Homo sapiens: one gene and its partners. The protein of the gene in region 3 interacts with the protein of the main gene of each other region in a pairwise test. Each region holds a gene or a part of one and is shown on either strand. Other genes may lie near its edges.

Region 1 (3,651 bases), on a different chromosome or scaffold from region 3:
ATACCACATTTTTACTGTAGCCTTTCAATGTTTAGATATGTTTAGATACACTGATACTCACCGTTGTGTTACAGTTGCCTGCAGTATTCAGTATAGCAACATGCTGTACAGGTTTGCAGCCTAGAAGCCATAGGTTATACTGTATCAGCTAGGTGTGCAGTAGGCTATACCATCCAGGTTTGTGTAAGTACACTCTGATGTTCACACAAAGATGACATTGCCTGATGACACATTTCACAGAAGATATCCTCATTGTTAAGCAACATGTGACTATATCTCAACCCTGAATAGTGTTCTATTATAATGGTGTACATTATTTTACTTGGTTGGTCTCCTATTGATGGATATGGATTCAAGCTGTTTCTACTTTTTTGCTATTGCAAAACAGTGCTGCAATGAATAATCTATATTATCTTTGTGAACATGTGAAGTAGAAGTACTAGTATAAAATTTTGGTAGATAATGCCAAAGTGATCTCCACAAGTGTTTACTAATTTTTATTCCTACCAACAAATATAAAAGTGCCAGTTTATCCCTACACTCTTTATAGTACGGTATTTTCTTTTCTTTTTTTTTTTTTTTTTGAGATAGAGTTTTGTTCTGTCACCCAGACTGGAGTGCAATGGCGATCTCGGCTCACTGCAACATCCGCCTCCTGGATTCAAGCAATTCTCCTGCCTCAGCCTCCCAAGAAGCTGGGATTACAGGCGCCCACCACCACACCTAGCTAATGTTTGTAGTTTTTTAGTAGAGACGGGTTTTCACCATGTTGGCCAGGCTTGTGTAGAACTCCTGACCTCAGGTGGTCCACCTGCCTCGGCCTCCCAAACTGTTGGGATTACAGGCGTGAGCCACCACCATGCTCAGCCTTCTTTATGTTTTTAAAGGCCATTAAATGGCCTTGAGTCCAGGAGTTCAAGACCAGCCTGAGCAACATGGTGAAACCTTGTCTCTACAGAAAAATACAAAAATTCACCAGGTGTGGTGGTGTGAGCCTGTAGTCTTTGCTACTCAGGAGGTTGAGGTGGGAGGATTAACTGAACCTGGGGAGCTGAAGGCTGCAGTGAGCCGTGATTATGCCACTGTACTCCAGCCTGGGCAACAGTGTGAGACCCTATCTCAAAAAATAAAAAAATAAAAAAAACATAAAGAGATGTTCGACCTCACTCTTAATAATACAAATGTGGAATAAACTACAACGAAATATTCTTTTTTTAAACTTTTATACTTTTTATCACAGTGATAAAGATCAAAACATTTGAAAATGTGATCTGTTATTTGTCTTTCGCCTGTGTGTCTATAGAATTATGCAATTTTTACTGATTTGGAGGAGCTTTGTGCATATAAGGAAATTAGCTCTTGTGATAAGTATTGAAAATACATTTTTTCAGTATCTTACTTTTCTTATGATTTTTGTATCGATTTTTCTGAAGTCTTTTGTTTAAATCTTTTATTTCATGATGTGTAGGCTTTGTGTCATTTCAGAAGGCCTTCTCCACTCCAAGGTTTAAAAAATCATTTCCTGGCCAGGCGTGGTGGCTCACGCCGTAATCCCACTTTGGGAGACCGAGGCGGGTGGATCACGAGGTCAGGAGATCGAGACCATCCTGGCTAACACGGTGAACCCCCGTCTCTACTAAAAATACAAAAAAAAAATTAGCCGGGTGTGGTGGCGGGCGCCTGTAATCCCAGCTACTCGGGAGGCTGAGGCAGGAGAATGGCGTGAACCCAGGAGGCGGAGCTCGCAGTGAGCCGAGATCACATTACTGCACTCCAGCCTGGGCGACAGAGCAAGACTCCATCTCAAAAAAAAAAATCATTTCCCATCTTTTCTTCTAAAACTTTAATTTTTAGAAAAACAATGTAGTTATTTTTTTATCCATCTGGACTTTTATGTAAGAAATGGGGTAAAGCTCCACCTTATTTTTTCCCCAGATAATTTCTTAGTTGTCCTTGAAGATGTATTTAATAATCTCTCTTTTTCCTGGGGAGTTTTATTTTTAAGGTATGAAACAATATTCACAATGAGGGAAAAAAAGGAAAACAAATTAGACATTTTTAAAACCTGATTGTTACCACAGATATAAAAAGATTGAGAAAAATTACAGTTTTTTTTTTGTTGTTGTTTGTTTGTTTGTTTTAATGAGTCTTGCTGTATCACCCAGGCTGGAGTACACTGTCGTGATCTTGACTCACTGCAACCTCCACCTCCTGTGTTCAAGCAATTCTTCTGCCTCAGCCTCCCAAGTAGCTGGGACTACAGGCGTGGACCACCACGCCTGGTTAATTTTTATATTTTTTAGTAGAGACAGGGTTTCACCATGTTGGCCAGGCTGGTCTCAAACTCCCGACCTCAAGTGATCTGCCTGCCTCAGCCTCTCAAAGTGCTGGGATTACAGGCATGAGCTACCGCACCTGGCTGACACAACCTTTATTTTTTTTATTTTTCGAGACGGGGCCTTGCTCTGTCGCCTAGGCTGGAGTGCAGTGGTGCCATCTCCGCTTACTGCAACCTCTGCCTCCTGGGTTCAAGTGATTCTCCTGCCTCAGCCTCCTGAGTAGCTGGGATTACAGGCATGTGCCACCACATCCAGCTAATTTTTGTATTTTTAGTAGAGACAGGGTTTCACCATGTTGGCCAGGCTGGTCTCGGACTCCTGACCTTGTGATCCACCCGCCTCGGCCTCCCAAGTTCTGGGATTACAGGTTTGAGCCACCATGCCCAGCCGACACAACCTTTTTATTAACTGCCTGATGTTTCTCTAAAGCATTTTACTCCAGAGAGGTCCCCCCATTTTAAATATATTGTGCAATAAAAGTAAACATCCAGTAAAATTGACTTTTTCTTGTACAGTTCTAAGTTTAGACAAACACATAGACTTATGTAACCAGCCACCACATTGAATTCAAGATAGAGAATCGTCCTTTAACCCCCATATATTCTCTCATGCTACTATTTTGTAGGCAAATCCTGCCCTCACCCCAATCCCTGGCACCCACTGCTCTGTTTTCTGCAAGTACCTATGTACTCAGAATTTCTGGTGACTGTTTTTGGGTTTTTTGTTTTTTATTTTTTTGTTTTTGAGGCAGAGTCTCATTCTTTTGCCCAGGCTGGAGTGCAGTGGCGCCATCTCAGCCCACCGCAACCTCCACCTCCTAGGTTCAAGCAATTCTGTTGCCTCAGCCTCCCGAGTAGCTGGGATTACAGGCATGTACCACCACGACCGGCTAATTTTTGTATTTTTAGTAGAGACGGGGTTTCACCTTGTTGGCCAGGCTGGTCTTGAACTCCTAGCCTCAGGTGATCTGCCCGCCTTTGCCTCCCAAAGTGCTGGGATTACAGGTGTGAGCCACTGCGCCTGGCCAACTGGTGACTGAATTGAGTCAAGTGGGAACTGTTGCCTGAGGACATTGCTTCTTAACTGGCAGGAACTTGCTCTGCACCCTGGAATATACTCTGAAGGCTGGGAGCAGTCAGAGGCCTCAGACAAATAATCATAAGAGTTAACATTTCCTGAGCGCTTACTACATGACAGGTACTGTGCCAAGGGCATTTAAAGCATTATATCACTTTTCACAGCAGTTCCATGAGGTAAATCTATCATCCCCATTTTACAGATGAGGCAACTGAGGCTAAAGATAAAGTACTTT
Region 2 (3,651 bases), on a different chromosome or scaffold from region 3:
GGCAACCACTGTTAAAACCAAATTTTGAAGGAGAACCTTGCCCTTTTCAACAAACAAACTTGTTAGAAACTAAATTTCCAGACCTCAAGTACAGAATATAGATACAGCTTAAATTTTGTCTTACAAAGTCAGCACTTATTGGTTATTCATTGTTGCGTGTTCTCAAAGGCCCTGAGTCAACTGTCTCTACTCAGTTAAATACTATTTGGACTTGTCCCTTATGGTTTCAAGCACAATTATTACAATATTTGGGGCTTACAAAAATTTTATTTATAACTAGCTTTTAATTTAACTAGATATTGTAAAAATTGGAAATTTGGAATATTCATTTCTTTGTCCTGTTGTAGGTGGCGCTCGTGTTTCCGAATAGTGACCCTGTGATGTTCATGGTTGCATTTTATGGGTGTCTCCTGGCAGAGCTGGTTCCTGTCCCCATAGAAGTGCCATTAACAAGAAAGGTAGCAAACCCATGGCTCAGGTCCCGTGTGGTTCGCTTCTGAACTTGATACCAGCAGTATCTTACTTCCTTTTCACTCATGTGGGCAGGCAGCAAGCAGCTGTTTTGACAGAGGAGAGAAAGCTAGTAGTCAACAGGCTGGCCAGGACTCAAGAGAAATCAGATGCCGTTTTGCCTGCCTCTCTTCTTGTTAATGAGAGGGGCACTGAGAACCGTTTTGCTGGTGATGCTCCCACACCACACTCTTATTAGGTGGAGCTGTTCTATCATCTACATGAATTTCCCAACAGAAATGATAGCCATTTTTTCCTCTAATGAATAGAATTATGATTCAATAAGATTTTGTTCAACTTTTCCTCAAAACCATATGTTTATAGAAAATAATTATTATTTCTTAGGGATAAATATATCATTACAGTGATATAGCTCACTTCTCAGTGGCAGTTTTGAATAAACGAGATGGAAATTATCTTGCATTTCTGTTCACTTATATGACCGTAGGCAGTTTCTGTTGCTGATAAATTATTAATGTGGGGTCTTGCTGATCTAGGTATCTGTAACATTTTTGATATAACTATCAATAATATGATTACTGAAAAAAAATAGACAAGGCATGAATTTGAGAAAATCAGTTTTCTGTCATCCTGTCCCAGAATTCAGGCAGTTGTTAACAGGAGCATTATCCAGAAATATTCAAGAATCCCAAAAGTAAAATTTGCAAATCAAACTAGTGTATCTCAAAGCATAATATGTGATGGGCAGGTATTTGAATGCAGTGGTTCTTAGGAGTAAAACTAGAGATTTGTCAAATTTATATGAAGAAAATGACAGAATACTGCTGAGGGACACAGAAGACTTGGCTACAAGGAAATGTGTTTCTGTGTGGAAATAATTTAATATCGTTGGTGACCAGGCCTCTCTAGATTAATTTGTAAATTTCAAACATGATTCAATAGAAATTTCAATGCCATTAACTTTGGAGTTTATTAAAAATGCTTCTAAATGTCATTTGTAAGAATAAACTTTGAGAAATTAGCCCATTAAACTTTATATTTCAACACAAATACAAACCAAAATTATCTTTTAAATTTAAACATAGTTGTCACATTTTCATGAACTATTTCCGTGAAAAGATCATATATATCAATAATGGGACTGAATTATTCTGGAAGTTTTATGAGGGATGAAAAAAAGATCTGTTCTCTGTGCATGGCCTGGAGCACCAAGGGTCTGGGGCTGTGGCTGCTGTGAGCACCCCACCCCACACGGTCACTCTGCTTTCTGCAGGATGCAGGCAGCCAGCAGGTTGGGTTTCTGCTGGGCAGCTGTGGAGTCTTCTTGGCCCTGACCACAGACGCTTGTCAGAAAGGCCTCCCCAAGGCACAGACAGGAGAGGTGGCAGCTTTCAAAGGTGAGGCCTCCCAAGGGAAGGGGAGTCAGTGTTCTGACTGTGGTCTGTGTTAAATGCATGGTGTTCCAGAAATTAAACATGACAGAGGTGTCTGGGTCTTCAGCAAAAGTGATCCCTTGTTCGAGTCCTTGGTGAATCTCGGTTTTCATCTGGCTTCATGTCTCGACCTGTACTGTCTAATGTGGTAGCCACTGGCCGGATGTACCTTTTTAAATTATATAAAATGAAATGAGACTAAAACTTGCACTCCTTATTCGCTCAGTAGCTAGTGCTGCATGTTGGAGGCGCAGGCTTCGAGTGTGGGGAGCAGATGCCTCTGACTGCTTGCTGTTCTGTGTCCTGTCTGTGTGTCACAGGTTGGCCCCCGCTCTCCTGGCTAGTGATTGATGGGAAGCATCTAGCCAAGCCCCCAAAGGACTGGCACCCTCTGGCCCAGGACACAGGGACTGGGACTGCCTACATTGAGGTAATGACTGTTCCTAACTTAGAGAATGTAAAAACATGTCCCACAGGCTTAAGTCTTGCTTTTCATAAGAATGTAAGTTGCTATTCTTTTTTGTTAAGTTTCGGCCTAAGAGTTCTTGTTTTATCTCTGCCCTGGAAATACAGAGTGTCATATAAATCCTTGCTCAGATCCTTCCAGGTTTCTCTCTCATCTAATTCTCTCCTAACTGGCTCCCTGGGGATGCAGACAGTTATGAGGGAGCCCATGGCGCACCATTACCCTCGGGCACCTGCCCAAGAGGAGCCACAACTTCCACTGAAGCATCCCCTCAGCGGCCAGGGTTTTGCCATGTACCTGGGCTGCTGGTTAGAGGCCGATGGTTAGAGGAGAGACACTGACCACTTCTTCTTTTGAAGATTCTACCAGTTTCCATTCTGTCTGTTGTCACCTCTAGAAATACCACATCATGTTTTTTTCCTTGAAATCTTTCAGTATAAAACCAGCAAAGAAGGCAGTACGGTGGGGGTCACAGTGTCCCACGCATCCCTGCTGGCACAGTGCCGGGCTCTGACCCAGGCGTGCGGGTACTCAGAAGGTAAGGGCTCTCGGGGGTGGGGCGGTGGCCCCTCCAGCCTCACACAGATACCTGACGTACCTAATCATGTGACTGTCACTGCACCTGTCAAAACCACCCCTGGGTAGTGCCTTTGCCCATTAATCCGGGTCATGCCAGGTAGGGAGATGCACTGTCTTTAGCATGCTTACAGGGTCTCTGTGGTTGTGCTGGCCAAGAGGGCACACGGTGTCTCTTAGCAGAGTCCAGACAACCCCATCAGGGTTGTTTTCAGTAAATGCACATGGATGTTGATTTTATGGAACATGGAACCTATATCCCACTGATTGATTTATACACAGTGCTGGGTTCACAGGCCTGCCCTGGGGGGCTGGCTTACTCTGTGACATACTGAGGGTCAGGGCATTTTTCATTCAAAAAGAGGAAAACACTTTTAGTTTTCTATTACTTTATCTATGACTGTAGTTTTGACCTCAGCTGTCATGGATATAAATATATAAGTAGAATCTTTATGGTTATAGATGATCTGTTGATAAAGTATAGTCAGCACCTGATTTACTTCAAATGTCAGATACTTAACTTGAGATATCTTTAAATTAATATTATTTAATTGATAAGTACTAATTGTATATATTTATGGGGTACACTGTGACAATTTTAAAAACTGTAAAAATGGACTCAGTAGTTTTCTTACATTGTAATACTAGAATTGAACAAAACTACTGAGTGAAATTGAATGGTATGTCTAAATATCTAAAATATAG
Region 3 (3,651 bases):
CACCCTCCTACTGACTAGGCAATCAAGAGCTTTCCACTCACCAGGGTTCTTCATCTCTCCCCCTTAAGAAAATCCAGCAGCTGTCAGAGGGCTCCATGTTTGGCCACGGTCTGAAGCACCTGTTCCACAGCCGCCGTCGGTCTCGGGAAAGGGAGCACCAGACGTCTCAGGATTCCCAGCAGCATCAGCAGCAGCAGGGTATGTCCGACCATGACTCCCCAGATGAGAAGGAGCGCTCTCCGGAGATGCATCGCGTCTCCTACGCCATGTCCCTGCACGACCTGCCCGCCCGGCCCACCGCCTTCAACCGCGTGCTGCAGCAGATCCGCTCCCGGCCCTCCATCAAGCGGGGCGCCAGCCTGCACAGCAGCAGTGGGGGCGGCAGCAGCGGGAGCAGCAGCCGGCGCACCAAGAGTAGCTCCCTGGAGCCCCAGCGTGGCAGCCCTCACCTGCTGCGCAAGGCCCCCCAGGACAGCAGCCTGGCCGCCATCCTGCACCAGCACCAGTGCCGTCCCCGCTCTTCCTCCACCACCGACACTGCTCTGCTGCTGGCCGACGGCAGCAACGTGTACCTCCTGGCTGAGGAGGCCGAAGGCATCGGGGACAAGGTGAGATGGGCCTTCTGGGGCAGGGGGAGACTCAGAGGCAAGGGCCATCCGCTGAGGGGCCTTGAGACCTGGGGAGCTGAGCCAGGGGCCCTCCCTGGCAGATACTGACACCCCACCGTCTGCAGAGTTATCTACCTTGGTTAAAGGAGTCGGGTATGACTAGGCCAAAAACAAGAGATGATTCCCAGGATGGCTAATTTTTGTTTCCTTAGGGCTGTTTTTCAAAATTGTGTTTTGCTCATGCTGATATTAATGTTGACTTGTTTTCCTTAAATGGGCTATCAAGAGGCAATAGGTATAGTAGTTTAAAGCACAGACTGGAAGCAACTCTGGTTCTGCCACTTACTCAGTTAACCTCTTTGTGCTTGTTTCACCAATTGAAAATGAGGATAATAATAGTACAGTTGTAGGACTAAATGAGTTAATATATGTAAAATACTTGGAATAGAGCCTGGCATAGTATCATCTTTACTATTGGCACCAACCAAAGAAGATAGGGGATCCATGAAGGGTGATTTGGGAAGGAGAAAAGCTAGTTTAGCACTTCATGAATTTATATATTCGTTCTTTTATTCGTGTAACAAGTATCTATTGAATTCTTATGTTGTGCTACAAGAATGAACAAGCCAGTGTTGCTGTCCTTGTGGAGCTCACTCTAGAGGGGGTACAAGTGGGTGAATGGACAGAGAGATGGGAGCTGCTGTGGGAGCTTCAAGGGAGAGGGGACTTGAGGAGAGAGCGAGGAGCTGGCAAAGACCTGTTTGAGGAAACCATTGAGCTGAATCTTGAATAATTTAGCCAGGGAAGAACTGGGAGAGGGGAAGGGGGAAGAGAGGGCATAGTATGTACAAAAGCACACAAGCTGGTGCTAGGGGCTACTGGGGGTTCATTATGGCCAGAGCATCTAGCACTTTTGGGGATTGACAGGTAGGCAGAGGCCACATCACAAAAGGCCTTGCCATGTTGATTCTGGGAGTAGTGTGAAGCTATCAAAGGGTGCTAGGCAGGAAACTGGCAGGACGAGGTTCCTCTAGGTCTCAATATAAAGAGTAGATTGGGGCCAGGCACATGGCTCACACCTGTAATCCCAGAACTCTGGGAGGCCGAGGTGGGTGGATCACTTGAGGGCAGGAGTTCAAGATCACTCTGGCCTACATGGTGAAACCCCGTCCCTACTAAAAGTACAAAAATTAGCCAGGCATGGTGGTGGGCGACTGTAATCCCAGCTCCTCAGGAGGCTGAGGCAGGAGAATTGCTTGAACCTGGGAGGCGGAGGTTGTAGTGAGCCAAGATCGAGCCACTGCACTCCAGCCTGGGAGACAGAGCGAGACTTCGTCTCAAAAAAAAAGAAAAAACCAACAAAAAAAATCAGTAGATTGGGAAGGGAGTGCAGGACGGGAGTCAAGGAGACTTTGGAGCTAGTGCAGTAGTCTAGGCTGCAGCAGTGGGGATGGAAAGAAGGCGCCAAGTGCAGAAAACATTTGGAAGTGAAAGTCAGAAGTAGTAGGTGAGAAAGTGAATAGGAGGCAAAGGAAAGGGAGGCGTAGAGGATGATTCTAAGGTTATGGGCTTAGTGGCTTTAAAAATGGGGGAATTCTCTAGTTGAGGAATCACAGGAGAAGGAGCATGTTTTGGGGGGAAGGTGATGAGTTCAGTTTTGGACCTGTTGAGTTGCAAGTGCCTTTGGGAGCTGTCCAGCTAGGGAGGACCAGCTGGCAATTGGGTCTGTGGGGTAGGGGCCTGGGCCAGGGCCAGTGCTCTGGGAGCTGGCGCTGAGGTTGAAATCATGGGTGTGGGTGTGATCTTCAAAGGAGGATGTGTCGAATGAGAAGGAGGCTGTGGACAGACCCAGCTGACATGTAAGTGACAGGCCAAGCACCAGGAGCCCGAGAGAGAGCAGTCAGATGGATAGAAGTAAACTTGCAGCAAAGCAAAAGGAAAATGAGCTTGAAGGAGGAGGAAGTAATCAGAGTGAAATGCATAGAAGGGGCAGGTCACATCTGGGTTTGGAAATGTGCACAGGCAGTAGCAAGCAGTGGCTGTCATTGGGAACCATGGCCTGAAGCCAGTTTCTGTGGATTAAGGAGAGGGTGGAAGTGAAGGCAGGTGTGTAGCTTGGCTGGGAAGAAGGAGGGTATCAGGTGGAGGCAGTCTGGTTTTGTTGGTTTTTTTAAGTTGGGAAGCACCTGAGCCCACCTCCATGCTGGCTGGAGAGGTCCCTATTAGGCAGAGATCGAAGATAGCAGTGAGGAAGGGGAATTCTCACTGGGGTGAGGTCAGTGAGTAGGTGAAAGGGTGTGAGATCCAGAAGTCAGCATCGTCCTTGGTCACAAAGAGTCACCTCTGGGAGGCAGAAATGAATTCTTACTTTGTTTTTATTTTCTATGGGGGAAGAAACCAAAGGTGCAAGTGTTTATTGAGAGCAGGAGGGGAGGTGGGAAGGGCTGGCTTGAGGAGGGCAGTAAAGCTTTGGCTTGGGGCAGAGCAAGGCTCTGAGCAGGAACTCACGGGTGACCTGTCTGGTGTTGTAGAGGCTGGTAATTTGTGCTGGCAGCACCCTAGTGGTTGCGATTTGTTTTCTCTCTAGTGGTCCTAGCCAGAGGGTAGGAACAGAGCTGAACGATTATCAGGCTAATCCAGGGTTGGGGGTTGCTGGGAGGGCATGTAAGGGTGACAAAGGAGTTGGGGGTTTGTTTGGGTCAGAGAATGCTCAAAAGGTTGGACCTTGAAACCTCGGCTAGCAGAGAAGGAGGTGGGGATAGGAGAAGGCTGATGAATGTGGAGAAAAGGAGATGGGGGTACTGAGGGAATGAGGGAGCAGGTACATTAAGAATAAAGAGGAGTGAGAGAGACAGGAGAGGGCATTGGAGTTTACAATTTGGGGGGTGGGATAGGGAAGACAAAGGTCAGAGTATACTCATAGAGCATGACAGACAAGGAATGAATGGAAAGATAATTTGCAGTGGCAAGAGCTGAGAGGCTAGGTTGTGGGATGGGCTGTCCACATGACATGGAGATGCCCCCTTGGACAGTGGTCAGGAAG

The links.
Region 1: the proteins of TMCC2 (region 3) and SMO interact in a two-hybrid assay, tested with the Homo sapiens proteins (one large-scale study listed by BioGRID and IntAct).
Region 2: the proteins of TMCC2 (region 3) and DIP2A interact in a two-hybrid assay, tested with the Homo sapiens proteins (one large-scale study listed by BioGRID).

The regions. Positions count from the first base shown.
Region 1 is NC_000007.14:129,198,616-129,202,266, forward strand, and holds part of SMO (protein smoothened precursor), read left to right. Parts: intron 1-3,651. UniProt on the Homo sapiens protein: G protein-coupled receptor which associates with the patched protein (PTCH) to transduce hedgehog protein signaling. Binding of sonic hedgehog (SHH) to its receptor patched prevents inhibition of smoothened (SMO) by patched.
Region 2 is NC_000021.9:46,531,780-46,535,430, forward strand, and holds part of DIP2A (disco-interacting protein 2 homolog A), read left to right. Parts: intron 1-347; coding exon 348-458; intron 459-1,744; coding exon 1,745-1,868; intron 1,869-2,224; coding exon 2,225-2,334; intron 2,335-2,805; coding exon 2,806-2,908; intron 2,909-3,651. UniProt on the Homo sapiens protein: Catalyzes the de novo synthesis of acetyl-CoA in vitro. Promotes acetylation of CTTN, possibly by providing the acetyl donor, ensuring correct dendritic spine morphology and synaptic transmission.
Region 3 is NC_000001.11:205,241,437-205,245,087, forward strand, and holds part of TMCC2 (transmembrane and coiled-coil domains protein 2), read left to right. Parts: intron 1-68; coding exon 69-608; intron 609-3,651.